Linked DNA regions of Homo sapiens. The protein of the gene in region 3 interacts with the protein of the main gene of each other region in a pairwise test. Each region holds a gene or a part of one and is shown on either strand. Other genes may lie near its edges. The genes, in order: ATXN7L2, SLC16A5, HSPB8, MISP, TRAPPC6A, ATOSB and RPIA.

Region 1 (4,186 bases), on a different chromosome or scaffold from region 3:
ATTACCCTACGAGACCTCCCAACTGACCCTGTCCTCAGAGTTCCATGCTCCACCTTCCCCTGTCCCTTTATCTCCTCCCTAGGGCTCCCCTCACCGCAGTGCTTCTGGAAAGCTTGAGGCTTCACCACTTGGCTGCAGTGGTTACACACAACCAAGTAGAAGTCATCATGGGCAGGGCAGTGCCCGAAGATGGACATGTCTGCAATGACAGAAGCCCATGTCACTGGGGCTGAAGATCCCAGGGTTTCTCTGGAAGATCGGAGAGCACTCCCACCCCACACTCAGAAGGCACTTCACCTCCCCGCTGATATAACAAGCTCCATGCTGAATGCTTCCAGCTTCCAGAGTTCGATCTAAGCAGTCCCAAAGGGTATACGCTTTCAGGTGAGTGGGCAATCACCTATGATTATGATCTCCAACGACAGGTCACAGGAGCCAGAACAACCGGCCGACTCGGACCTATCAAAATGAGGGTCCCCAGACAGCTGCTTCAAGCAGCCACCTCCTTCTGTAGTGTGGTGGAAAAGTGGAGCGTGGTCCTGTCTGCCCTGGGTCCCAGCCCTAATGTGTGTCGACTCCCACCTTCTTTAATGAGGGTCATGGCATCCAACTTCTTCGTGTTTTTGCTACTCTCCTCCAGCTCAGCCCCTAGAGGAGAAACACAGCTCAGAAGGGTCAGGGCCAGTTTTAGAGAGTCTCCAGCCTCTCCTTACCAGAGACTGTTCTTCCCAGAAGACAACCCAGAGGTTGTCCCCTTTCCAGAAGCCCCAAGCAGGGCCTGCAGCTCAACAGTATGAAGCCCACACTCCGTGACAAGCTCCTGGTGCTAGGACCACTTGGGGAACCTTTCAGTGGGTCCATTCTCAAATGCCCATCTTCCTTCACCTGCTGCATCTGGACTAAGATGGCCCCACTAAGAAGAATCCATCCACCTTTCTTATGGGACCCTTCACTTCAAGGTGCAGTTTAGGGTTCCACTGCTAACTAGTTGGGTGATTGTGGGTAAGTATCATCTCTTTTCTGGGCCTGCTTCCCCATTTAAAGGGGAAACCGTCCTTAACCAATGTTTCTATAAGTCCCTGAGTCTCTTCTTGAGATTTCTCGATGGGTCCTTTCTGCTACTATGTGGCATCCCAAATAGATACTCTCCCAGGTCCCCACCCCCATGAACTCAATTTTGCTCCACCTGGGTTACCATAGCATTGTCAAAGTTACACCCAGCTTCTCAGGTCCTGCACTGATAGGATGGTCACAGAGCAGAGAAACTGCTGTCTTTGGTCCTTGAGCATCTTCAAAGTCTCCTTGGTCAGCTATGCAAGTCCCTCCCCTTCTTAGAGGGCCTTTGGGCAGGGGTTGCCCTTGTACCTCAGTTTCTGGGTTAATGACAAAAACATCTTAGCTGTGCAAAGCAGCTTTTTCCCCATCCCCCTACCTCTCTCCTCCCCCCTCCCTCCTCTACGCCCCCTCCCTGTCCCTTGGGAAAAAAAAAATCAATTCTGAGTCACCAAACCCGTCTGACTCCATTTCCGGTTCTCAATGCACCCAGACCCTGACAATGGCCCCATCTTTGCCCACCCAGCATGGGGCAGCCCCAGGGTGGCCTGGGCTCCCACTTAGGTCTGCTCTCTGATGCCCATTAACAGATATGCTCCTTTCTAGGATGAGAAGATTGTTGACAATCTTATATAATATCCAGATTATGAGGGGTCGTGGGTTAGGCACGCAAGAGACAAGGGGCAGCTCCCACTCTAAGTCCGTTAAATGCAAGTGCGGGGAATGATGGATAGAACGAAACTGGGAGTCGGATGTCTCAGAGGAGAACAAGTGTCATTAGAGACCCCTCCGTGCAGTCTCCTCCTCCACCTCTTCTCACTTGCAAACTTCTTCAGGGGCGTGATGCCTGCTGTCACCCCGAAAGGCCACGAGGCCAGGTGCTCCCTGGGGCCCAGAAGACAAAGATCAGAAGAAGGGGCTGTAGGCCCGCTCACTAAGGCACTCAGGGGCCTAGAGAAGGTGAGAGTAAGAGCAGAGAGCCAAGAGGCAGGGCAAGAGGCCTGGGAAAGGACAGTGGGTTGGAGGCATGGATGGATGGACCGAAGGATGGAGGGAGGGAGGATAGATGGATGGACGGACGAACTAACGCGGAGAGGGCGGGGGTCTAAAAGCACTGCAGCTGCAGGCAAATGCCGAAAAGGAGCAGGAGGTGTGGGGCAAAAGGCGAAGGAACAAGGGGGGTGAGGAAGGGGGCACAGAAGTGGGGTGCGTGGGAAACACGTGGAGGACTGTTGCGGACAGGGAAAGCTGGAGGCAGGTGCAGGAGGGTCGCGAGCTGAGGGGCAGCAGGCAAGGAGAAAGATAAAGGCAAGCCTATATGGGGGCAGGTATTAGCGACTGGCAGAGGCAGAGGTTGGCAGGGTGGGCTGCGAGCGGTGAGCAGGCGCTAGGACCCGGAGGCGCGAAGGTGACGGAGCGGGCGGGCACTAGGACCCGGCGGGTCCTTTGTTTGGGGGGCCGGGGAGCCGGACGGCGGCTCCAGTCGGCGGCTCCCCTCAGCTGGCGGGGGCCCGGAAGGGGGGAGGGGAGATAGTGATGGGGTCCCCGGACTTTAGGGTGGCTTTACTCACCGTCAGCCGCGGGCAGGTCGGCCCGCTCCACCCACGAGCTCCAGCTCTGTCCCGCGAAGTCATCGAGACTCGGCACCCGCCGCTCCAGAGCGGCCATTGCTGCCGCCGCGCGTTCACGCACCGCCATCACCGCCGCGGACGCGCGCCCGCCCTGGCGCCGCCGCCGCGCGGCCCCCTCCCCCTCGCCCCGTCGCGGGCACGCCTCCCCTCCTCCCCACCTGCCTTTCCAGCGCAGTCTTTGCGCAAGCGCAACACAGGTTGCCTGTTCCCCGCGCCCCCCCCCCCCCCACCCACTCACAGCCTTCTGGGAAGTGTAGTCTTGGAGCGGATGCTATTGCCTACCGAGCTTGCAGCAAGAGTCCCTCCGAAATGCACAATTGCAGGGGGAAAAGAGAAGACCAAAGCTCCAGGACCTCCTCTTCTAACCCTTATGCACACATTATTTGTGCTACCAGTCCACTCTCCCAAGCTCACTGCATCTCTCCCCAGCCCCAAACCTCTCTGCCCAGACGCCCCTCTAAGCCGTGCGTCCGCCAGCTGGCTGGCGCCCCTTCCCGGGCTGGCGGCCACGAAGCGACTCCGCTCCCCTGTAGATCGAATAGGGTAGGTGCAGGGAGGTGGGCGCTGTGAATCAGAAGGGCAAGGGGAGGGAGTCTGTAGGAGGTGCTGAAGGACACAGGGGTGGTGTGGGGGAGGGCCTCGGCTCCCGTGTCGTGCCTCCTCTGTGGGAAACCCACGCTGCCCTGATGCAGAGCAGAGGGTTGGCGTGGCGTTGTCTGGATTTGAGAGGACCTGGCCAAGCTGACCAAGATCACCTGTCATGATGACAGGATGACAGAAGGCTGTCTCCGAGCCAGAGCCAGCCCCAGAACTGGGGTGGCCCCGAGGCAGCTGGTGTTTGCAGCATCTCTGCTGATCTGTCTCTCTTCTCTTGAGAACTGCGATCGATACCCTGTACAGCCTCTTCCCAAACCCTGGCTGGACCCTGACTCCATCCATCACTTTGCCTTCTTTTTCTAATGAATACTTTCTCTGCTGGAAGGGCTGCTTCTGAAGCCTCGGCATAGGGAGATTTCTCATCAGAGCTGTCATCTTCCTTGCTAAGGTCTGGAAAGTACCTTAATCATCCATTTCTTTCATCTTCTCAGCTGATAACATTTCTTCCCACCCTCACACAATCAGACAAAAGTCTGCCTACTCCATTTCCCGCCCCCCCCCCGCCGCCATCGCATTAAAAAAGTAATACTAATCCTTTTTCCTCCTCAACCTCTCACACCTCACCCCCGACGCTTGACCCTTTAGCTAAGGGGAAAACAAGTTGGGGAGCAAGACCTCAGATTTTCTTCTCCTTTTCATCCAGGGAAGGTGTAAGTACTTCAAGAATAATCTCTGAGGGCAGGGAATCTCAACCTGAGACCCACAGATGATCCCTAGGGCATCCAGGAATCAGGTAAAAATTAAATGTTCAATTGTACCCAAGGTATTTTTCTAGGGGATGTAAATGTAGTGTGTGACTCTCTGAAGAGGGATAGAGGTGCAAGTTTGTTCAACAAGAAGCTGAT
Region 2 (3,500 bases), on a different chromosome or scaffold from region 3:
AGTAGCTGGGATTTACAGGTGCCCGCCACCACACCCAGCTAATTTTTTTGTATTTTTAGTAGAGATGGGGTTTCACCACGTTAGCCATGTTGGTCTCGATCTCCTGACCTCGTGATCCACCCGCCTCAGCCTCCCAAAGTGCTGGGATTACAGGCGTGAGCCACCGCACCTGGTCACAAACCCATGCTTTTTTTTTTTTCTTTTTGAGGCGGAGTCTCGCTTTGTTGCCCAGCCTGGAGTGCAGTGGCGCAATCTCAGCTCACTGCAAGCTCTGCCTCCTGTGTTCATGCCATTCTCCTGCCTCAGCCTCCCGAGTAGCTGGGACTACAGGCGCCCATCACAACGCCCAACTAATTTTTTTGTATTTTTAGTAGAGACGGGGTTTCACCATGTTGGCCAGGATGGTCTCGATCTCCTGACCTCATGATCTGCCCGCCCCGGCCTCCCAAAGTGCTGGGATTACAGGCATGAGCCACCGCGCCGGGCCAAACCCATGTTTTTAACTGTTCATACTCTGAGTGCCAGGTTGGAAACCAGCTGTAGCACAACCTCTGGAGATGCTGGACTGGGCCCAGATCTGTCTAAACTGTTCCCCTTTTACCACACTATCTGGCTGCCCTCCCTCCCAGCTCCTCACCGGCCAGTGGTGGGGAGATGAGGAAAGCAAGGCCGTCCAGGACAGTGAAGAGTCCCAGGGCTCTGGGGAACTGATCCATGGGGACGATGTCCATGAGAACCTGGAAGATGAGGGCGCCGATGCCACTCATGGACACGCTGTACGCCAGGCAGTAGCCCACGAGCACCCAGAAGTCACCTGATGCCGCACACACCAGGTTAGTGAGCCCATTGAGCAGGAGTGCCAGGCTGAACAGGTACTTGCGGTGGCTAGCAAAGGCCGGCCGTCCTGCCATCAGCCCGGCTAGGGGCCTCAGGAAGATGTTGCTGAAGCCGATGATGGAGATGAGGAGGGCTGCCTGCTGCTCGTCCACGCTGTGCCACATGGCATATGGCACCAGGAAGACTTGTGGCAGTGGGAAGCCCAGGACGGACCACATCACACCCAGTATGTACACGCAGTAGCCTGTGTTGTGCCGCAGGATGTCGAAGGCCAGGTGGCGCTGGATGGTCCGGCCGCATGCAGCCAGGCAGCCAAGTGCAGGTGTCTCGGGAGGTGGCGGGGGACATTCTTTGGTCTCAGGGGCCACACTGGTGGCCACAGGCCTTATGATGGCCCCGCAGATGCAGCAGTGGAGAAAGATCCCGCCGAAGACAAGGAAGGTACCCCTCCAGCCCAGGTTCTCCAGAAGGTAGCGGGAGAGCAGCGGCCAGAGGGTGATGCCCAGGGAGACGCCCATCGAGGCCAGCGCGTTGGCCAGCACCCGCCGGCGGACAAAGTAGAAGCCCAGCACCGTGATGCTTGACTGGAAGCTGAAGCACATGCCCAGGCCTGCGGGGCAAGAGGGGAAACCAGCCTGGAGGCGCACTGGGGCCTTCCACCTGCACCCAGGGGTGGGGTCAGTGGTCATTTCACACACCTGCCCTCCTCTGGTTCTAGTCCATACCCAGCTCCAAGTCCCTGGGGACTGACCATGGAATCAGCTGGCCTCGCCACCTCCCTGTAGGCACCCCACCCCAGATCTGCCCTCCCAAGGCTGCCAGGGCATCCCTGTTCCCCTAGGTGTAGCACGAGAGTTATCTTTTAAAAACCCAAATTGGGCCGAGCGCGGTGGCTCACGCCTGTAATCCCAGCACTTTGGGAGGCCAAGGTTGGCGGATCACTTGAGGTCAGGAGTTCGAGACCAACATGGTGAAACCCCATCTCTACTAAAAATACAAAAAAATTAGCCAGGCTTAGTGGCAGGCGCCTGTAGTCTGTAATAGCTACCTAGGAGGCTGAGTCAGGAGAATCACTTGAACCCGGGAAGTGGAGGTTGCAGTGAGCTGAGGTTGTGGAGGTTGCAGTGAGCTGAGATTGTGCCACTGCACTCCAGCCTGGGCAACAGAGTGAGACTCTGTCTCAAAAACAAACAAACCCCAAATTGGATTAAGTCTCTCTTGGCTTAACACCTTCCAAAGACTTCCCATCACACTTGACAAAAAATCCACAGTCTCCACAATGCCCTGGAAGGCTCTCTGTGGTCCGGCTCCAGCCCGCCTCTCAGATGCCATCTCAGGCTGCTCCCTGTCACTCATTAGGATCAAGACACAGGAACTTCTTTCTCTGCCTCTGGACATGAAGCTGCCCCTACCTCGGGTTATTTGTAGCTGCTGTTCCTTCTTGGAATCTGCTTCCTCCAGACTTTCCACTCTCCTCTCAGTTCAGACGCCACCTCTCCAGAGGGGCCTTCCCCGCTCCCCACCCACTCAGTGTCTGCACCTGCACACCTGAGCATGCTGGAGAAAAAGTTCTCAATCATGTGTGACCGTGGCCTCAGGCGGGCCCTCAGGCTGCCTGTGACGCCACTACAGCTCCCTCAATCATGCCTTGCCTGCCCTGCTAGGTGACTACCGGTGTCTTCCTCTGTGCCCCCCAACACCTCCTCCCTATCCTTATGCTCAGCTGCCCACATGCCTGCTAGCCAGTGACAATGGCTTGCCCATTCCCCCAGTGGCTGTCCCTCCCTTCTGCCCTGCATCCTCTCCACTCAGAGGCACCCCTCTAGCAAGTCCCCTCTCTCCTGCATCATCCTTTTTCTCTTCTTTCCTAGATCCTTCTCCTTCGTTATTTCTCCCATTAAAAACAAACAAACAAACAAACAAAAAAAGCCTGTCTTGACCTCATAACCACTTCTGGGTATAGTCTGTTCCTCCAGTCCCCTTAAAACAAAATGCCGTGAAAGGGCTGGGCATGATGGGCTCACACCTGTAATCCCAGCACTTTGTTTTTTGTGTTTTTGAGATGGGGTCTTGCTCTGTTGCCCAGGCTGGAGTACAGTGGTGCGATCTTGGCTCACTGCAACCTCCACTTCCCGGGCGATTCTCCTGCCTCAGCCTCGAGTAGCTGGGACTACAGGGGCCCGCCACCAAGCCTGGCTAATTTTTGTATTTTTTTTAGTATAGACAGGGTTTCACCATGTTGGCCGGGCTAGTCTCGAACCCCTGACCTCAGGTGATCTGCCCGCCTCAGCCTCCCAAAGTGCTGGGATAACAGGTGTGAGCCACCGCACCCAGCCAGCAGTTCCAGAAGATTAAGAGGCCTGCCTGCCCTGTCCACTTGTGCCTGGCACTTTCTAGCAGGTGCCTATAAATTCTGGAGATGAAGTGATAGTCACCTGTGATGAATCCTGCTGTGAAGTAGAGCTGGCTGAGGTTGTGAGAGAAGGAGCTGGCCACCATGCCCAGGCTGGCCAGCACGCCCCCCAGCATCACGGTCACTCGGCAGCCGAAGCGTCCCACCAGGATGCTGCACAGGGGCCCTGTGGGAGAAGACAGCCAGCAGGTAGCAGCTGAATGAGGAGGTGGCGGGAGAGGAGGAGAGTGGCTGGAGAGGGCAGTTCCAG
Region 3 (3,158 bases):
AGAGATCACACTAGCTGAATTCTGAGGCTTCTTCCAGCTTGGGATTCTACATTCCTGTCTCTTCCCCCACATGTCCGTCCCTGGCCCTCCCACAGCCTCTGCAGTTCTTGGAAGCCTGTGGACACTTCCTGATAAGGCAAACGCCAAACCATTTGTTCTTCGTGTTTGCTGGCTTGCCTGGCATCTCCGTGCCCCACACCTCTCCCTGGTTTAGCAAGCAGATTAAACATTGCTGAGGGAGAGGAAGGAAGGCAGGGGGTGGGGGGAAGCTGATGTCAAGGCTCAAATGAGGTCTCAGGGTGGAGTCACAAGCAGGGCATAGCTGTAAAAGGGACTGTGTAAGAAAGAAGTGAATTAATCATCTTAAAAGGGGTGTGTGTGTGTGTGTGTGTGTGTGTGTGTGTGTGTGTGTATTTCACATGCTCCAAGGCCTTAGGGGAGATAGCTTGCTGGAAGTAACCTGATGAGAAATGCCTGAAATTGCTCCAGGCTGGTGCTCAGCTGCTGAGCTGGGCTAGTTGTTAAAATATTCAGTGGTCCCCAACCTTTTTGGCACCAGGGACCAGTTTCGTAGAAGGCAATTTTTCCATGGACTGGGGAATGAAACTGTTCCACCTCAGATCATCGGGCATTAGATTCTCATAAGAAGCATGCAACCTAGATCCCTCGCATGCACAGTTCACAACAGGGTTCAAGCTCCTATGAGAATCTAATGCCACTGCTGATCTGACAGGAGGCGGAGCTCAGGCAGTAATGCTGGCTGAACTGCTGCTCACCTCCTGATGTGAAGCCTGGTTCCTAACAGGCCACAGATGGGTGCCGGTCCATGATCCGGGGGATGGGGACCCCTGAATATTGGCTAGCTATTGCCCTGAGCCCTCCCTAGCCAACCCCAGTCACTCTGATCTTGTCCCCAGGACCCTCTAAACCTCTCCACCTTCCAACAACTAAAGGGTCCCAGGACCCTCCTCCATCACTATGACATGCACCCATCCCTTCTGAATGGTCAGTGCCCAGCTGCACTAGTTGTTAAATATTTTGAATCTCAGCTCCGGGTGCAGGGAGTCCTGGCTCCATGAGAAAGTGAGTGGGTAACTTGGGGCAACTTGCTTAACTGCTCTGACCTTCCATTCCCACATCCCTGCATGGAGGGGTTGTGATGGGAGTGAGAGGATGTGTATAACGCATTAAGCATGGAATACAGACTCAGGGCTTGGTCCATGGGAATTAATATTATGAAAAGGCTTCACAAGGCTGGACTCACACTCCAGCAGCTGGGACTCCTGGGAGCTCCTGGCTCTGCCCAGACTCTAGACACCTAGGAGTCGAACTGGGGTCTGGGACACCTCTGGACCAATCTCAGGAGTCCTCGTTGCCTCCTCTCCCAGGGAAAACTCCAGTCATTAGAGGACAGGGAGATTCCTTCAGCCAGGCTGAGATCCTTGGAGATTTCCACCCAGGCAGGATGCTGCAGCTGTTTGCCTTAACCATGGCAAGGAAATTCATCTCAACACATCCATCTCTGTGTGAAAAGCCCCATTTGGACTGAATAAGGAGGAGAGGGAGAGGTCTTGGGTCTCAGCTTTCAAAGTCCATGATCTTCCTATTTGGTTAGGGGAAACCAAATTACAGTCATTTGCAATACCGTCATTCACATCCCATCTTCACTATTTTTTGCCTTATATGCTTACATTGCTGTACCATGATTTACTAAAGGTTTTTTTTTCTTTTAGATCATCTCATTTTTGATAAAGTTAAATTCTTATCACTGAAATGTTCACTGAGGAAAGCGATCATGAAATAAATCCAATGAAAGCAAACTGTGGTTAAATTCTAACTAGATAATATTGCCTGCCTAAGGGCCTCAGCTCTCTCATTGTTAAAAAGGGAAGGTAGCAAGTGATAGAGGCTAAAGGCGTTAAAGGCATGTTAGTACTTAGCAGAGACATTCCTTCAGATGTAAGTAGAAGCACTGAAAGAGAACTGAAGAGGAATTACTTTCCCACCAAATGGGTTTAAATACAAGTCACTTGGTTAGAGACCTTGGACTTGTCTATCTCTCTGAGTTTCAGTTTCCCCATAAGTAATATAAGAGCATTGTCATGGACAATCAGGAAGATCCTTTGGGGCCCTGATACTCTGTGGTTCAATGATCCTGCAATTTGTATGATACTCCATCTTGCTGTCAAGATGCCAACATGTAAGGTCAAAGACTGCAACGTAATTCTCACTCCACCCTAAGAGGTGGGTACTATTATTGCCCCCTTTTTTTCTGCAAAGAAACAGGTTCAAAGAGTCAAGATCACCAGCCCCATGTTGTGTGGTCAGGAAGAGTCAGAATTTGAATGCACGTCAGCCTGCCTGCAAAACCCATGCTCTAGGCCATAGCCACCCTGTCACACTGTACCTGGTGTGCACTGGGTTGGTGTGCACATGGTTAAACAGTCAGCCCATCCCCAGCATTGGGAGGGAGGTCTAAACTTTTGACTTTGTCTCCGCTTCAAAAGCTTGACTTGGCAGCTTTCTAGTTCCCTCTTTTTCTTCCAAATGGGCTTCCCAGAAGCAGCCTTGTTCATCTCCATGGTTCCAATCTGGCAAGGAATCTCCTGGGTAGATACGGCTCATGTGGCTACAGGTTGTTGTACCCACAAAAAAAGAAAGAAAGAAAGAAAAAAAAAAAACTCCCCAGCCCCTCCAGAAGGAGTCCTGCCTATGATCAGGAATGGGCTTACCTCATGCCTTGGTTCTTTCATCAAGACCCTCGTATTTACAATAGGCAGAGCCAGCAGGGATCAGTGGAAAGATTTTGATTGAACTGCCGGTCCTTCCTGCCATAGTCCTTCTTTCAAATGTCTGGTGCTGGGGGAGGCAGGAGAGCATCATGGTCAGATACTCTGAGTTTGGAGACCAGGATTCCAATTCCATTTCCTATCTGCCATTTGCCAGCTGAGCAACCTTGGGCAAAGCAGTTCACTTCTCTGAGTCTCAATTTCCTCATCTGTAAGATGGGGATAGCAATGGAATCTGCCTGGTGGGATTATTGTTAACACCAAAATGATATGATTCAGCTAAAGTACCTGGCACATAGAAAGTACTCAGAAGGTCATGGATTTCATGGTTAAAAAAAATAATGGCACCCCAATGAGATCACTAATATG
Region 4 (3,500 bases), on a different chromosome or scaffold from region 3:
GTTCAAGACCAGCCTGGCCAACATGGTGAAACCCGTCTCTACTAACAATACAAAAATTAGCCGGGTGTCCTGGCTGGGCGCGGTGGCTCACGCCTGTAATCCCAACACTTTGGGAGGCCGAGGCGGGAGGATCACGAGGTCAGGAGATCAAGACCATCCTGGCTAATATGGTGAAACCCCGTCTCTACTAAAAATACAAAAAATTAGCCAGGCGTGGTGGCGGGCGCCCGTAGTCCCAGCTCTAGGGAGGCTGAGGCAGGAGAATGGCGTGAACCTGGGAGGCAGAGCTTGCAGGGAGCCGAGATCGCGCCACTGCACTCCAGCCTGGGCGACAGAGTGAGACTCCGCCTCAAAAAAAAGAAAAAATTAGCCGGGTGTGGGGGCGGGTGCCCGTAGTCCCAGCTACTCAGGAGGCTGAGGCAGGAGAATTGCTTGAACCCGGGAGGTGGAGATTGCAGTGAGCTGAGATCACGCTACCGCAGTCCAGCCTGTGCATCGCAGCGAGACTCTGTCTCAAAACAAAAGACAATACCTAAGACGGGTGCTGGGTACAAGGCCTGACATGAAGGAGGTGTTCAGATGATGGCTCTGGGGGAGGGGCAATCTGGGTTACTTCCTGGAGGAGGTGTCCATGGGCTTCAGCAGAGGAAGCCGTGGAGAAGCAGAAACAGGCAGCCTCGAGACAGAGAGAGCTGCAGGTAGAGGAGGAGGGCGAGGTTTGGGGTGGAGGAAGAGGGCCTGGTTTGGGGTGGAAGAGGAGGGTCTGGTTTGGGTTGGAGGAAGAGGGCCTGGTTTGGGTGGAAGAGGAGGGTCTGGTTTGGGTGGAAGAGGAGGGTCTGGTTTGGGGTGGAAGAGGAGGGCCTGGCTTGGGGTGGAGGAAGAGGGCCTGGTTTGGGGTGGAAGAGGAGGGCCTGGTTTGGGGTGGAAGAGGAGGGTCTGGTTTGGGGTAGAAGAGGAGGGCCTGGCTTGGGGTGGAGGTGCCCACAGAAATTGGGGTTTCGTGCTAAGGCCAGGAGCAGGGTGTGAGAACTGTGCCCTGCAGATGCCAGGAGCCACAGAAGCGATGCGAGCAGGTGTGTGACCTCCGGGAAGGCTCCTGGAACTGAGCCCAGCAGCAACCTGGACCCTTGGGAGAGGGCGAGAGCCGGAAGGCACTGGGTCAGGGTGTCACCCGCTCGCTCCACGGCCCCACCTGGGCCCAGCGGGACAAGGTCCACGGTGTTCCTTTGCCCATCCTGGCTTTATGGCGACAAGGCCCAGGCGGGGATGTTGTCTCAGATGGGACGAGGTGTCCAGCTGGGCAGGGCAGGGTGGAGAACCAGGATGTGGGAGCCGGGAAACTGGAGTTGCTGTCAGTCCTTCTCTCTGGGCCTCAGTTTCTCCATTTGACATCCCTTAGCAAGGGGCCATCTGTAATTGTCAGATGGAAAAATCCCACACCAGGAGTCTCAGAGTGAGCTCAGGGTGGAAAGGCTCAGTGCACAGGAGACACAGATAAATATGGTGCGGCCAAGGAAGGCTTCAGAGATCAAGGCTGAGGCCAGGCGCGGTGGCTCACGCCTGTAATTCCAGCACTTTGGGAGGCCGAGGCGGGCAGATCACCTGAGCTCAGGAGTTCGAGACCAACCTGGCCAACATGGTGAGACCTCGTCTCTACTAAAAATACAAAAAATTAGCCGGACTTGGGAGGTTAGCGCCTGTAATCCCAGCTACTCAGGAGGCTGAGGCACGAGAATTGCTTGAACCTGGAAGCAGAGGTTGCAGTGAGCTGACATTGTGCCACTGCACTCCAGGCTGGGCAACAGAGCGAGACTCCATCTCAAAAAAAAAAAAATCAAGGCTGAGCTGGACTCCACAGGGCAGGTGTGTGTGTCTGGGAGATAAGGTGGGCAGGGCACCCTGATTTTATTGGGCTGCAAATGTTAGAAACATATAATGCGAGTTGTTGGGGTAGTAACCGGGACATTCAGAGATTCAGGTATGGTTGGAATCAGGGAGCTTAAAAGTTTTCAGGATGCTTTGCTGGTGTTGGGGTTGCTGTCAAGCAAGCTGTACCCACTGGGGGCATTTACGTCCCCAGCAATTCACTATCTCATTCCATCAGCCTAACAAGACCAGCGGGAAGAGGGTCCCATCTTCTGCATTAATTGTAAAGTCCCAGGGTCTCATGTCATTGGCTAGACTGGGTCACATGCTCATCTCTGAACCAATTACAGAGGCCAGAGGGTGAAATGCTCTCACTGGCTGGACTAGGTCACTTACCCATCTTTGAACCAATCACAGAGGCCAGTGGGTGGGATGCTCTGATTGATCAGGATGAGTCACTTACCCATCCCTGAACCAATCACAGAGGCCAGAGAATGGGCTACTCTGACTGGCCAGGCTGGGCCATTTACTCATCCTTGAACCAATCACAGAGGCCAGAAGGTGGGATGCTCTGATTGGCCAGGCTGAGTTACTTACCTATCCCTTAGCCAATCACAGAGATTAGACAATGGGCTGCTCTGAGTGGCTGTACTGTGTCACGCACCCCTAAACCAATCACAGAGGTTAGAGAATGGGATGCACTGATTGGCTGGACTGTCACTTACGCACCCCTAAACCAATCACAGAGGTTAGAGAATGGGCTGCTCTGAGTGGCTGGACTGTGTCACTTACCCATCCCTAAACCAATCACAAAGGCCATTTGATGGACCCTTTGCCCTTTGGGGGACTGGAGGCTGTTCCTCTCCCTAGGTGCTCTGACTTGATGGCCCTCATTTCCTTCTCCTCCCTCAGTAAGCCCAGAGGTCTCCACCCCACGGGAGGAAGGCTGAGGCCAAGACCCCGGAAGAGATGGACCGCGTGACCAGATACCCCATCCTGGGCATCCCTCAGGCACACCGTGGCACCGGCCTGGTGCTGGATGGAGACACCAGCTACACATACCATCTGGTGTGCATGGGCCCCGAGGCCAGCGGCTGGGGCCAGGATGAGCCGCAGACATGGCCCACTGACCACAGGGCCCAGCAGGGCGTGCAGAGGCAGGGGGTGTCCTACAGCGTGCATGCCTACACTGGCCAGCCGTCCCCACGGGGGCTCCACTCGGAGAACAGGGAGGATGAGGGTTGGCAGGTTTACCGCCTGGGCGCCAGGGATGCCCACCAGGGACGTCCAACATGGGCACTCCGCCCAGAGGACGGGGAGGACAAGGAGATGAAGACCTACCGCCTGGATGCTGGGGACGCTGACCCCAGGAGGCTGTGTGACCTGGAGCGGGAGCGCTGGGCCGTCATCCAGGGCCAGGCAGTCAGGAAGAGCAGCACCGTGGCCACGCTCCAGGGCACTCCTGACCACGGAGACCCCAGGACCCCCGGCCCACCTCGGTCCACGCCCCTGGAGGAGAACGTGGTTGACAGGGAGCAGATTGACTTCCTGGCAGCGAGACAGCAGTTCCTGAGTCTGGAGCAGGCGAACAAGGGGGCCCCTCATAGCTCCCCGGCCAGGGGGACCCCTGCAGG
Region 5 (3,500 bases), on a different chromosome or scaffold from region 3:
CGTGATTCACCCACCTCGGCCTCCCAAAGTGCTGGGATTATAGGCGTGAGCCACCGCGCCCGGCCCTGACCCTGTCTTAAAAAATAAATAAAAAACAAAAAACCAGTAAGACATTTACTCGCTTCCTCCAGCTCAGGGTCCTGGGTGGCCAGAGCCCGTCCTGGCAGGGCCAAAAGCAGGAATGGACCCTGGACAGAACGCCATCCCATCACAGGGCGCACACGGGCCCACACTCACTCACACTGGGCCCACGGAGACCCGGGAGCTCACCCAGCGGACACATCCCAAGGATGCACAAGGAAAGGAGAGCCCAGAGGAACTTGCACCAGCACAGGGAGAACCCACAACCACCACCCAGACAATGGTCCCGGGAATCATTATTTTTTCCTCATCAATGTCACAACAAAATGTTATTCCAGGACCGGCATACTGTGTGGCAGGCGTTTTCTACAGCCTTCTTGTTTTACCTTTCCAGCCTCACAGAAGGCTGTAATTCCAGGTGGAAACAGGGGCTCTGAGGTTAAGAAGAACCCATCCAAGGCACCCTCAGCACGGGACTGTCTTTCACACCCCAGCAGGTCCAGATAGGAGGGTGGGTGGGGTGACAGCCATGGCTGTTGAGGGCCTCACGGAGGTGAGGAGCGCTGGGAATGGCGGGGGGGCCTGAGCTGAGGTCGCCCATATCTGAAGCCAAGGTGGCCCTTCCTCTGCCTGGCCCCTTGCCAGGCCTCGCCCTCATGGGTGACAACGACACGGCTTCCTGTTGCACTGTCTCCCTCTGGTGTCACCATCTGCTTTCCTCCAGTGTCCTCAGGCACAGCAGGGCCGGCCACACAGCAGAGGCTCATGGAAGGGGCCGATGACTGCAGGAGACGGGCAGGTGTGTGTGAGAGACAGAGTGGGAAGAGACCCCTGCCCGTGGGTCCTTCATGGCAGCACTACCAGCGGCGCAGGTGCAGAGCCACCGCCTGGGTCCAGATCCGCCCCAGCACTTACCAGTGTGGGACCTGGGCCAATGGCTGAATACCTGTGCCTCAGTTTCCTCATGTAAAAAAGAGGGTCATTTTGTTTGTTTTTGAGATAGGGTCTCATTCTGTCACCCAGGCTGGAGTGCAATGGCACGATCTTGGCTCACTGCAGCCTCTACCTCCTGGGTTCAGGTGATCCTCCTACCTCTGCCTCCCAAGTAGCTGGGACTACAGGTGTGAGCCACTGCGTCCAGCCCAAAGGAGGGGAATATTAATGGCAGCTACCTCCAGGATCCTCACAAGGAGTAAGGGTTGGTAAAGGCAACCTGAGTACTTCAAGGCAGTTCCGGGAGCCTTACTTATTGCATTCACAGCCTCCACATCTGTCAAACAAGGAGACGGCCCCAGCCAATGAGGGATGAAGCCCTTGGCTGGAGGAGAACCCCAGGAAGGAAGGGGGTCTGTTCTGTGGGCTCCTGTAGCCAGCACCTAGAACAGCCCGGGCGAGAGCTCGCTGCCTGGTAGCTGCGGCTCCCGTGTCACCTCCTCCCACAGCGAAGCTCCTGGAGGCAGGGCCCAGGCTGCACTCTGAGGGAACACGTCTGTGTCCACAGCAAAGCTCCCAGAGGCAGGGCCAGGCTGCACTCTGGTGGAACACGTCTGTGTCCCCACTCGCTAAGGGCTCCTTTATGTCCCTCCCTCATTCATGCCACAGACATTTCCTAGTGTCCTCCAGGAGCTCACCTACCTTGCCTGGCAGGGTTGACAGGTGCCCAAATGATGCCAACTGACAATCTGGGAAGGGCTGGGAGACTGAGTGCAAGGGGCCCGGGCAGTGCAGTGCAGAGCCTGCCCTCCAGGAGGGGGCCGGAGGTGGCAGGTATTCCAAGCAAAGGGCATGTGCCAAGGCAGGGGTGAGAGGCGGGGAAGGGAAGGGGCCCTCAGAGTGGGCTGCAGAGGGGGCATTTTCCCCTGCAGGCAAGTGCAGCCAACCTGAGGGTCAACGCAGGCCACGTTGCCTGAATGCCAGCCACAGTGGGCCACAGACTCAGTCCCTGCCCTGCTGGAGCTGGCGTTTCACCCGGGGAATGGGCAAAGGTGCAATGGCCGGCTTCACTATGCTCACAGCGACTGCCAAGAGGGAGGCAGGTGTGCTGCGAGGGTGCACTCCCACCCCTAGGAAGCACCCCGACTGTGCTGAGCCTGAGGGAAGAGGGGGAGTTCAACAGCAGGAGTGGGCTGTGAAGGCACACCAGGCCCAGGTCACAGCCAGGACGGCAGCCCCCGGAGGGGTGAGCTGGGGGAGAGAGTCAGCAGGGTCCTTCAGCCAGGCCAGGAGCGTGGAGTCTGAAGGGGTTCCAGCAAGTTCAGCTTTTCCCTTCATGAACTTCACACTGCCTGGGTTTGAATCTCGGCCCCGCCACTCACTGGCTCTGTGACCTTGGGCAGATTAGCCAACCATCCCGTGCCTCAGTTTCCCCACATGTGCCATGGGGCTAATGGCAGTACCTGCTCACAGTGGTGGTGTGACTGGCAGGTGGCAACAGCTGGATACACGGCTGTGTGACTGCTGGCCCCACTGTACCCAGCCCTGGACAGGGGCCATTCAGATCCTGGCTGAACTGAAAAGGGCTGTGGGGAATCACAGCAAAAGGGAGGGGCCGAGGAGGAGCAGGAGGCAGGGAAGAAAGGGCGGAGGAGGAAGGGAGAAGCCTCCACCCACCTCATCACAGCGAGACCTGGTGGTGTCCATGCCCATGTCACTGCAAAAGCTCTTCAGAGGTTAGGGGTTTATCTTTCTTAAAAACAGAAGGGGCTGGGCGCGGGGGCTCTTGCCTGTAATCCCAGCACTTTGGGAAGCCAAGGCGGGAGGATCACTTGAGGTTAGGAGTTTGAGACCAGCCTGGCCAACATGGCAAAACCCTGTCTCTACTGAAAATACAAAAATTAGCCGGGCGTGGTGGCGCACGCCTATAATCCCAGCTATTCAGGAGGCTGAGCCACCAGGATCGCTTGAACCCGGGAGGCAGAGGTTTCAGTGAGCTGAGATCACACCAACACATTCCAGCCTGGGTGACAGAGCGAGACTCAGTCACAAAACAAAACAAAACAAAACAAAACAAAACAAAACAGAAGGGCTGGCCAGACAGAGACTCTCCCATTCATATGAATCTGCCAGAGCCCAGCCCAGAGCCGGTGCATTTCTGGGGCTCCCCACGCCTGCCTCTGCTGAGTTTACACACAGACCGGATGAAAGGAAAGGTGGAAGGGAAGTCTTATCAGTGTCGGTGCTAATGACATCCACCACACAGGAAGGATCAATCAGACACAAAGCAGAGTTCCTGGAAATGAACAAATATGGTGGCCAAAATCAACACTTTTTAACAAGGGAACTGAATAACAGAGAAACCTGTAAGACAGATAACACCTCCCAGAAGAAAAACAGGAGGGAGGAAAAAATGAGAGAAAAGCTACAGGATGCTTGGAAGAGATGCAGGAAGTCTAATATTCCCTGTGGTGCCTACAGGACAT
Region 6 (3,500 bases), on a different chromosome or scaffold from region 3:
CTTCTGGCAGTGACCCCTTCCCCTTCCCCTTCTTGTTTTTGGTCGGATTTGTTGCCTCTTGTTAAAGAGACAGGCTGCTGGAGGCAATTTGGAGTTCAGGGCTGAAAGGCCAGCTCTGAGCTGACTTGAAATTTGTACCTCTGAGGACCGCTGATGGGGTATAACTGTGTGGGAGACCTCTGCCCTTAGTGCCCTAGGATGGCACTTGTCCCTTTGGAGATAGACATATAAGAAGGAGTTGTGCAATTTGGTGGCTTTGAGTAAGAAAGCTGAATTCTTCCCCTGGCCGCCTCTCAGCTGACACGGTCTCTTGGATCTTGGGGGTCTCTCATCCCTTCCTCCATGTAGGGCAGGAGTCCTCAAATGGTGGCCCTGACAAGTAGTTATTCTACCTCAACTCACTTGTCACATCCTTATTATACTGAGCCAAGACCTGCCTCTTTGACTCCTTAGGTAGCCCAACTCTGCCATCTGTGCCCTGGACCCCAAGCCTACCCTTTCTGTTCCTGAAGAGCCTCTCACATGGGAGAAGGATGTCCTGGAGTGTACTATTAGCCTATAATTGGTGACAGGCCTTACCGCTGGCTCCAGTGATCCTGGCTTACGTCTGTTCTTCTCTCCTCAGGGTCCTGCTGAGCTCAGGAGCTGCACGGAATGGTGGCAGTCACCTTGCCAGTGCAGCAGGCATGGATCAGACTGCAAGCTAGGGGCACGAGGCATCAGTTGGGAAGAGGGGACGCACAGCTAGGCTTGAGGCCTCTTCATCGGGGTAAGTACCAGGGAGAAGAGGGGGAAGTGTGTCCAGTAAGAAGCCTGAGCTAAACCTGTCACCCTCTCAGGAGTTCTGAGAGTGGTCTCTATATTCCATTAGTCCATCCAGGGATTTGTACACATTCATCCTTGGGAACCCATCAAAGTCACCCCTTTAGGCAAGGAGAGGGTCTGAAACTCAGCTGGAAGGAAGAAGACTCATTGATTCCCCTGACCACCTTTTCTTCTCTTCTCTTACACAGATGTCCCCAGGCCCCCCAGCCCAGGCCCAGCATAAAGGCCGTGTTGGGGGGCCCCCCTGACCCAAGGGGGGCTTCATGCGCCACGTGCAGGCGGAGCCGTCTCCATCCTCAGAGCCGGAGGCTGGCCCTTCACAGCCTCCAGTCAGGCAGGGGGCCCTCCAGGGTGGCCTGCTCATGGGCTACAGCCCAGCAGGGGGGGCGACATCCCCCGGGGTCTACCAGGTATCCATCTTTTCCCCTCCGGCTGGTACCTCTGAGCCTCATAGGGCCCTGAAACGACAAGCCCCATCCACTGAGGGTCCCCGGGAGCTGAAGAGAGGCCCTGGGCTGGGGGCCAGAGAGGGACTACCCCCTGAAGAACCATCTACTGTGGGGCTCTTAGGCCCAGAGGGACCGGGGCTGGGACTAGGTGTGGCCAGCCAGCATTTCTCCCACCGTGGCCTCTGTGTTGTGGAACAGAGAAGTAGTGTCACCTCATCTTGGACTTCGGGGGCCTGGAGTCCCCCCTGCCCCCCATCAAATGCTTCCTGCAATACTTTGCACACCAGAGACTGGGCCTCCCCAGATCCAGGGGGACAGGGGTCCCTGGGGGAGTCCCCAGGGCCAGCCCCTCCAGGCCAGCTGCACACACTTGACACTGATTTGCACAGTCTTGCACAAATAGGGGGTAAGAGCCCAGTGGCTGGGGTGGGCAATGGGGGTAGCCTCTGGCCTAGGGAGTCCCCTGGCACTGCCAATGGGCACAGTCCCGAGCACACACCCCCTGGCCCTGGACCCCCAGGCCCCTGCCCCACCAAGCGAAGGCTGCTTCCTGCTGGAGAAGCCCCAGATGTCAGCTCTGAGGAAGAGGGGCCAGCCCCTCGGAGGCGCCGGGGATCCCTGGGCCACCCTACTGCTGCCAACAGTTCTGATGCCAAAGCCACACCCTTCTGGAGCCACCTGCTGCCTGGGCCCAAAGAGCCTGTTTTGGTAAGCCAATAAAGGACCTCATTTACTCTTTTTTTACTTTTTTTTTTTTTTTTTTTTTTTTGAGATGGGATCTCACTCCATCACTGCTGGAGTGCAGTGGCACAATCTCAGCTGACTGCAACCTCCTCCTCCCAGGCTCAAGGGATCCTCCAACCTCAGCCTCCCAAGTATCTGGGACCACAGGCACATGACATTGCACCCAGCTAATTTTTGGTATTTTTGGTAGAAATGGGGTTTCGCCATGTTGCCCAAGCTGGTCTCGAACTCCTGAGCTCAAATCATCGACCCACCTTGGCCTTCTAAAGTGTTGTGATTACAGGCGCTCAAGCCACTGCGCCTGTCCTTCATGTACTCTTAAGTGGATATTTGTGTGGGTAAAGGTGGAGGCCTGGGGGGCAGGGTGTTCCTTTGAGAGTTTGTGATGAGCTTCTGCCCCAAAACATACATGGCCTTCACCCTGTGTCTTTTCCCAATCATTTCTCTCCGTAGGACCCAACAGACTGCGGTCCCATGGGGCGGAGGCTGAAAGGAGCCCGTCGCCTGAAGCTGTAAGTGACCAGCTTTTTCCTCTACCCTGTCCCTGAGAATGGGGGCAGAAGTCTGTACTCTTTCCAGCATCCGAGTAGGGGACCCCAGGGCAGAAGCCCTACATAGTGGCAGAGGGTGGAGTCCAAGGGCATAAGCAGGAATCCCAGAATACCTCAAGCCAACCCCCTGTGTTTCCCTTCCTCTACCAGGAGCCCCCTTCGAAGCCTCCGGAAGGGGCCAGGCCTGCTGAGCCCCCCCAGTGCCTCCCCTGTTCCTACCCCTGCTGTCAGCCGTACCCTGCTGGGCAACTTTGAGGTAGCTCCCGTTGGGGTTTGTGATTGCCGGGGTCCTGGGAGAGGTGGGATGGTGGAATGTGGCTTGGATGGATAAGGAAAAGAATTGGCATCTCTCTCTTCATGTGTTTTCCCTACCCTAATCCCAGGAATCATTGCTGCGAGGACGTTTTGCACCATCTGGCCACATTGAGGGCTTCACAGCAGAAATTGGAGCTAGTGGGTCATACTGCCCCCAGCACGTCACGCTGCCTGTCACTGTCACATTCTTTGATGTTTCTGAGCAAAATGCCCCGGCTCCCTTCCTGGTATGCCTTGACTCCAACCCCAAAGTCAGCTCATCAAGAGGATGAGGATTTGGGGGCGGGGCCAGGGGGCAAGAGGTATTTCTTACTTATTCCTCACCTAGAAGTGAGTCAGGGCCAGGTGAGGAGAACTCTACTGTAGGGCAGGGGCAGGTTCAGGGTGAGAGCTTGTGGAGAGGGACATGTGTTTAGGGCCCAGGGTTTTCCTAGTCCCCACCTTGACTGATGGCTCCCTGGCCTTCCAGGGCATCGTGGATCTGAACCCCTTGGGGAGGAAGGGTTACAGCGTGCCCAAGGTGGGCACCGTCCAAGTGGTGAGTTTGCCCTGAGGGAGTGGGAGTGGGGAGAGAGGAAAGCAGCCCTCAGGCCCTACCAACCTTGACTGTCCTGTC
Region 7 (3,500 bases), on a different chromosome or scaffold from region 3:
TCCCTCCTTCCACTTGCTCCTTTCTCTCCCCAATGCTTTTCTGTCTTGGAGCTGGCTGTAAAGAAATTCTGTGACCTATGTTGTCTGTTTGTACGTCATAAGATCCCCATTTCAGAAGGGTTCCTGTTCCATACCCTGGAGGAAGGAATGCTGCAGGTGAAGAAGAATCTGAACAGACAGCCGTTGCAGGGTTTCCCCAGTCAGTCTGCTAGTATTGGATCATGCCCTTTTTGTTCAGTCACATTTCTAGGCCCTTGCAATTCCTGGTCTTTTCCAAGAGCCAATCATACCTATTCAATAAAGTCTCAAAAAAAAAAAAAAAAGAAAAAGAAAAAGAAAAGCTCGAGAGGACAGGGTTTGGAAGCTTCTGGAGAGCAGAACATGTGAAGGTCCCTGGAGGATGGTGTGCCTAGAGAGAGCATGGAAGCTCTGTGCTCCTTCTTACATGCCTTTACCTATGCATCTCTTCATCCATATCCTTCATCATAGCCTTTATAAGCTGGTAAACATGTTTTCCCTGAGTTCTGTGAGCCACTCTAGCAAGTTAATCAAACCCAAAGAGAGTGTTGTGGAAACTCCAACTTGAAGCTGTCAAGTCAGAAGTTCTGGAGGCCTGGACTTGCATTTGGTAGGAAGGAGGAGGCAATCTTGGGAGCTGAGCCCTCAACCAGTGGAACCTTATGGTATCTCCAGGTAGAGAGTGTTGAAATTGAATTGGAGGATACCCAGCTGGTGTCTGCTGCAGAGTAGATTGCTTGCTTGGGATACGGGGAGAAATCCCCATACATTTGATCACAGAAGTCTTCTGTGTTGATGATTGTTGTGGTGTGAGAGCAGAGGAAAAAGTTTGAGTTTTTCCACACTCAGACATAGGCCTTGATAAGACATTTTCTCATTCCTTGAAGATTTTTATATGTGAGATATTTAGCCATTTTGAATGTTTCTGTACTGTGATGTATCATTTACTTGTCTTGAAGTCCTTGCCTTTGGGGATTGTCCAGGTAGCTAAACAACTTTACTACACACATTGCCTTCTTGAGAGCATTGGTATAGGTGGAATCCTGACCTAGTGCGAGCCCTGTTCTGACAGCCCAAGCCCCTGATGTATTCAGTGCCTTTGGAACTGTGAGCTAGTAAAAGCAGTTTCCACCAGGTCAATAACACAAAAGTTGTTGGATAAAGTCTTCTGTAGGTAGGAGAGGCTATAGTAGCATTTTTAGTATATATGTATATGGTTGTGGGGACATTAGTATTTGATTTTTTTTTTTTTGGTAACTCTACTTGTTGGTCATTCTTTCTAATCTTTTCTAGTTATAGATGTAGTCAGGCTTTGAGAAGGACCATATCTAATGTGAGGCCTAGGGGCTGACTTTAAGTATTCCTATGGCCTTTGTCCTGTGGGGAATGAAGGATTTTAGTTGTGGCCCTGCTTGTCCTGAGGGCCCTTCAGGACTTGTCTTCTTCCTAAAAAGAAGGTTTTACTATGGGCTTTCCTTTGTCAAATAAATTAATTGTTAATCAGTTGTTGGAAATCTTAAGAAATTTGAAATAGATTGATGTTTCAGCGAATTGAACTTCCTGAAGTTGCTTATTCGATTGAAATGGCTCATCCTGTAATCCCAGCACTTTGGGAGGCAGAGGTGAGATGATCACTTGAGGCCAGGAGTTCGAGACTAGCCTGGTTGGCAGAGTGAGACTGTGTCTTTTAAAAGAATTAAAAAAATTAGCTGGGCATGGTGGCATGTTCCCATAGTACTAGCTATGTGGGAAGCTGAGGCAGTAGGATTGTATGAGCCCAGGAGTTTGAAGATGAGTTTGTGTGTGTGTGGGGGGGCATTGATAGTTTATATATATTATAAACATATATACAAGATATATTGTATATCTTGTATATATATTTAAAACAGGTAAAATCACACATATATAAAACAAATATATGTCAAAGATTTTATTTAACTCACTAAATTAATGAGGGAACTGGAAAGGTTATTAGAACCTGTTCATAGGTGTCTTAGTCCATTTTGTGCTGCTATAATAGAATACCTGAGAATGAGTAATTTATAATGAACAGAAATGTTTTGGCTTATACTTCTGGAGGCTACGAAGTCCAATATCAAGGCGTTGGCATCTGGTGAGAGAGACAGATGTTGAAGTGCTATGGGTGGGCACCAATCCTACCCATGAGGGTGGAGCCCTCTGACCTAATCACCTCTTAAAGGTCCCACTTCTTAATATTGTTATAATGGCAATTAAATTTCAACGTGAGTTTTGGTGGAGATGTTCAAAGCATAACAGGAGAAGTCAACTGTAAGCTCATATGTAGTAAAAAAATCTTAAAATGAATTTAGAAGATCTGTTAATAATTGTGTCTCACAGAACACTATTAATTTGCATTTCAATGAACAAAACTTACTTGCTTTGTTAACAGTTTTCTGCAAGTTAAAGTGTATCTCTATACAGTCGTCATATATCTTAAAGACAAAGGCACATACCTTCTTAGAGTCAGACAATACAAGCAGGTTCCAGCATCCCATTGGAAGGATATCCAGTAGTCTCTTTTGCTCATTTCAAAGTCTTAAGTTTTTCCTTACAATATTGAACTCATCTATAAAGTGGAAATAGTGGCTCTGTAGGTCATAAGTGATTGTTGTGAGATTTGGCTTTATATTAACATTTATAAGTCTTCTTGGTAGGTGCTTAATAAATGGTAGCTGCCGCTTTGGTGTTCACTTGGCTTTGCCTTGCAAAGGCAGGAGATAGATGTCAGGAAGTTGCTTAGGCACTGAGCTGCATATTAGTTCCTGACTGTTAGTACCCTGGCCTCGTTTTGCTCTTTGTGGTCTAGTAGACTCAGCTGAGCTTTTACTCTTTGGTCTGCTTGCAGGTACCTTCTTTGTTTCTTCTTGTTTGGTCTGCTTGTAGGTACCTTCTTTGTTTCTTCTTGTTTGGTCTGCTTGTAGGTAGGCTCCGTATTGTGATGTCTGCCTGTACTTTGTACTCAGGAAGTGCTCTGCATTTATTATGATCCTTTCTATTGCAGATGAAGACTATTTTTCATGTTCTTAACTAAGCCTTTGCCCTCTTTCCATTTTCTCTGAGGCAGGCTCATGCAAAATGAGCACCCCTTGGTGTCACCTAGGCAGATGCTGACATACTTTATTATTTTGAGGTTACTTCAGGCCCTCCCTTTATCTGCTGACTTTGGGAGAGCTCTAGATGGTGGGCCTGATGTGTCTTGTGGTGCTACCAACTTGAAGGTGCCTATGGAAGACACTGAAGCCAGAAGCCTTAGCTTTCCTCCCTTACCCAGGCTCCAGGCTCTATTGTTTTTTCTTAGGTGTTTTTCTAATTGCCTCCCTGGGATTGGCCAGGAATCTTTTTCTTTTCTTTCTTCTTCTTCTTTCTTTCTTTCTTTTTTTTTTTTTTTTAAACACACTGTTGCTGGCTTGAAATGTCAGGAATCTTTAAGTGTTTATATGCAGGCCATTTCTGTGAGGGTG

The links.
Region 1: the proteins of HSPB8 (region 3) and ATXN7L2 interact in a two-hybrid assay, tested with the Homo sapiens proteins (one large-scale study listed by BioGRID).
Region 2: the proteins of HSPB8 (region 3) and SLC16A5 interact in binary tests that used the Homo sapiens proteins (3 or more experiments, as listed by UniProt).
Region 4: the proteins of HSPB8 (region 3) and MISP interact in binary tests that used the Homo sapiens proteins (3 or more experiments, as listed by UniProt).
Region 5: the proteins of HSPB8 (region 3) and TRAPPC6A interact in binary tests that used the Homo sapiens proteins (3 or more experiments, as listed by UniProt).
Region 6: the proteins of HSPB8 (region 3) and ATOSB interact in binary tests that used the Homo sapiens proteins (3 or more experiments, as listed by UniProt).
Region 7: the proteins of HSPB8 (region 3) and RPIA interact in binary tests that used the Homo sapiens proteins (3 or more experiments, as listed by UniProt).

The regions. Positions count from the first base shown.
Region 1 is NC_000001.11:109,482,519-109,486,704, reverse strand, and holds the start of ATXN7L2 (ataxin-7-like protein 2), read right to left. Parts: upstream 2,801-4,186; 5' UTR 2,752-2,800; coding exon 2,625-2,751; intron 2,575-2,624; exon of another isoform or gene 1,874-2,574; intron 1,374-1,873; exon of another isoform or gene 649-1,373; coding exon 583-648; intron 200-582; coding exon 95-199; intron 1-94.
Region 2 is NC_000017.11:75,097,954-75,101,453, reverse strand, and holds part of SLC16A5 (monocarboxylate transporter 6), read right to left. Parts: intron 3,417-3,500; coding exon 3,273-3,416; intron 1,498-3,272; coding exon of another isoform or gene 1,448-1,497; coding exon 638-1,447; intron 1-637. UniProt on the Homo sapiens protein: Proton-linked monocarboxylate transporter.
Region 3 is NC_000012.12:119,188,931-119,192,088, forward strand, and holds part of HSPB8 (heat shock protein beta-8), read left to right. Parts: intron 1-3,158. UniProt on the Homo sapiens protein: Involved in the chaperone-assisted selective autophagy (CASA), a crucial process for protein quality control, particularly in mechanical strained cells and tissues such as muscle. Displays temperature-dependent chaperone activity.
Region 4 is NC_000019.10:754,112-757,611, forward strand, and holds part of MISP (mitotic interactor and substrate of PLK1), read left to right. Parts: intron 1-335; exon of another isoform or gene 336-698; intron 699-2,778; 5' UTR 2,779-2,835; coding exon 2,836-3,500. UniProt on the Homo sapiens protein: Plays a role in mitotic spindle orientation and mitotic progression.
Region 5 is NC_000019.10:45,168,238-45,171,737, forward strand, and holds part of TRAPPC6A (trafficking protein particle complex subunit 6A), read right to left. Parts: intron 1-3,500. UniProt on the Homo sapiens protein: May play a role in vesicular transport during the biogenesis of melanosomes.
Region 6 is NC_000009.12:35,105,863-35,109,362, reverse strand, and holds part of ATOSB (atos homolog protein B), read left to right. Parts: exon of another isoform or gene 1-158; intron 159-625; 5' UTR 626-769; intron 770-1,013; 5' UTR 1,014-1,088; coding exon 1,089-1,982; intron 1,983-2,471; coding exon 2,472-2,530; intron 2,531-2,719; coding exon 2,720-2,825; intron 2,826-2,952; coding exon 2,953-3,111; intron 3,112-3,353; coding exon 3,354-3,422; intron 3,423-3,500. UniProt on the Homo sapiens protein: Transcription regulator that may syncronize transcriptional and translational programs.
Region 7 is NC_000002.12:88,694,673-88,698,172, forward strand, and holds part of RPIA (ribose-5-phosphate isomerase), read left to right. Parts: intron 1-3,500. UniProt on the Homo sapiens protein: Catalyzes the reversible conversion of ribose-5-phosphate to ribulose 5-phosphate and participates in the first step of the non-oxidative branch of the pentose phosphate pathway.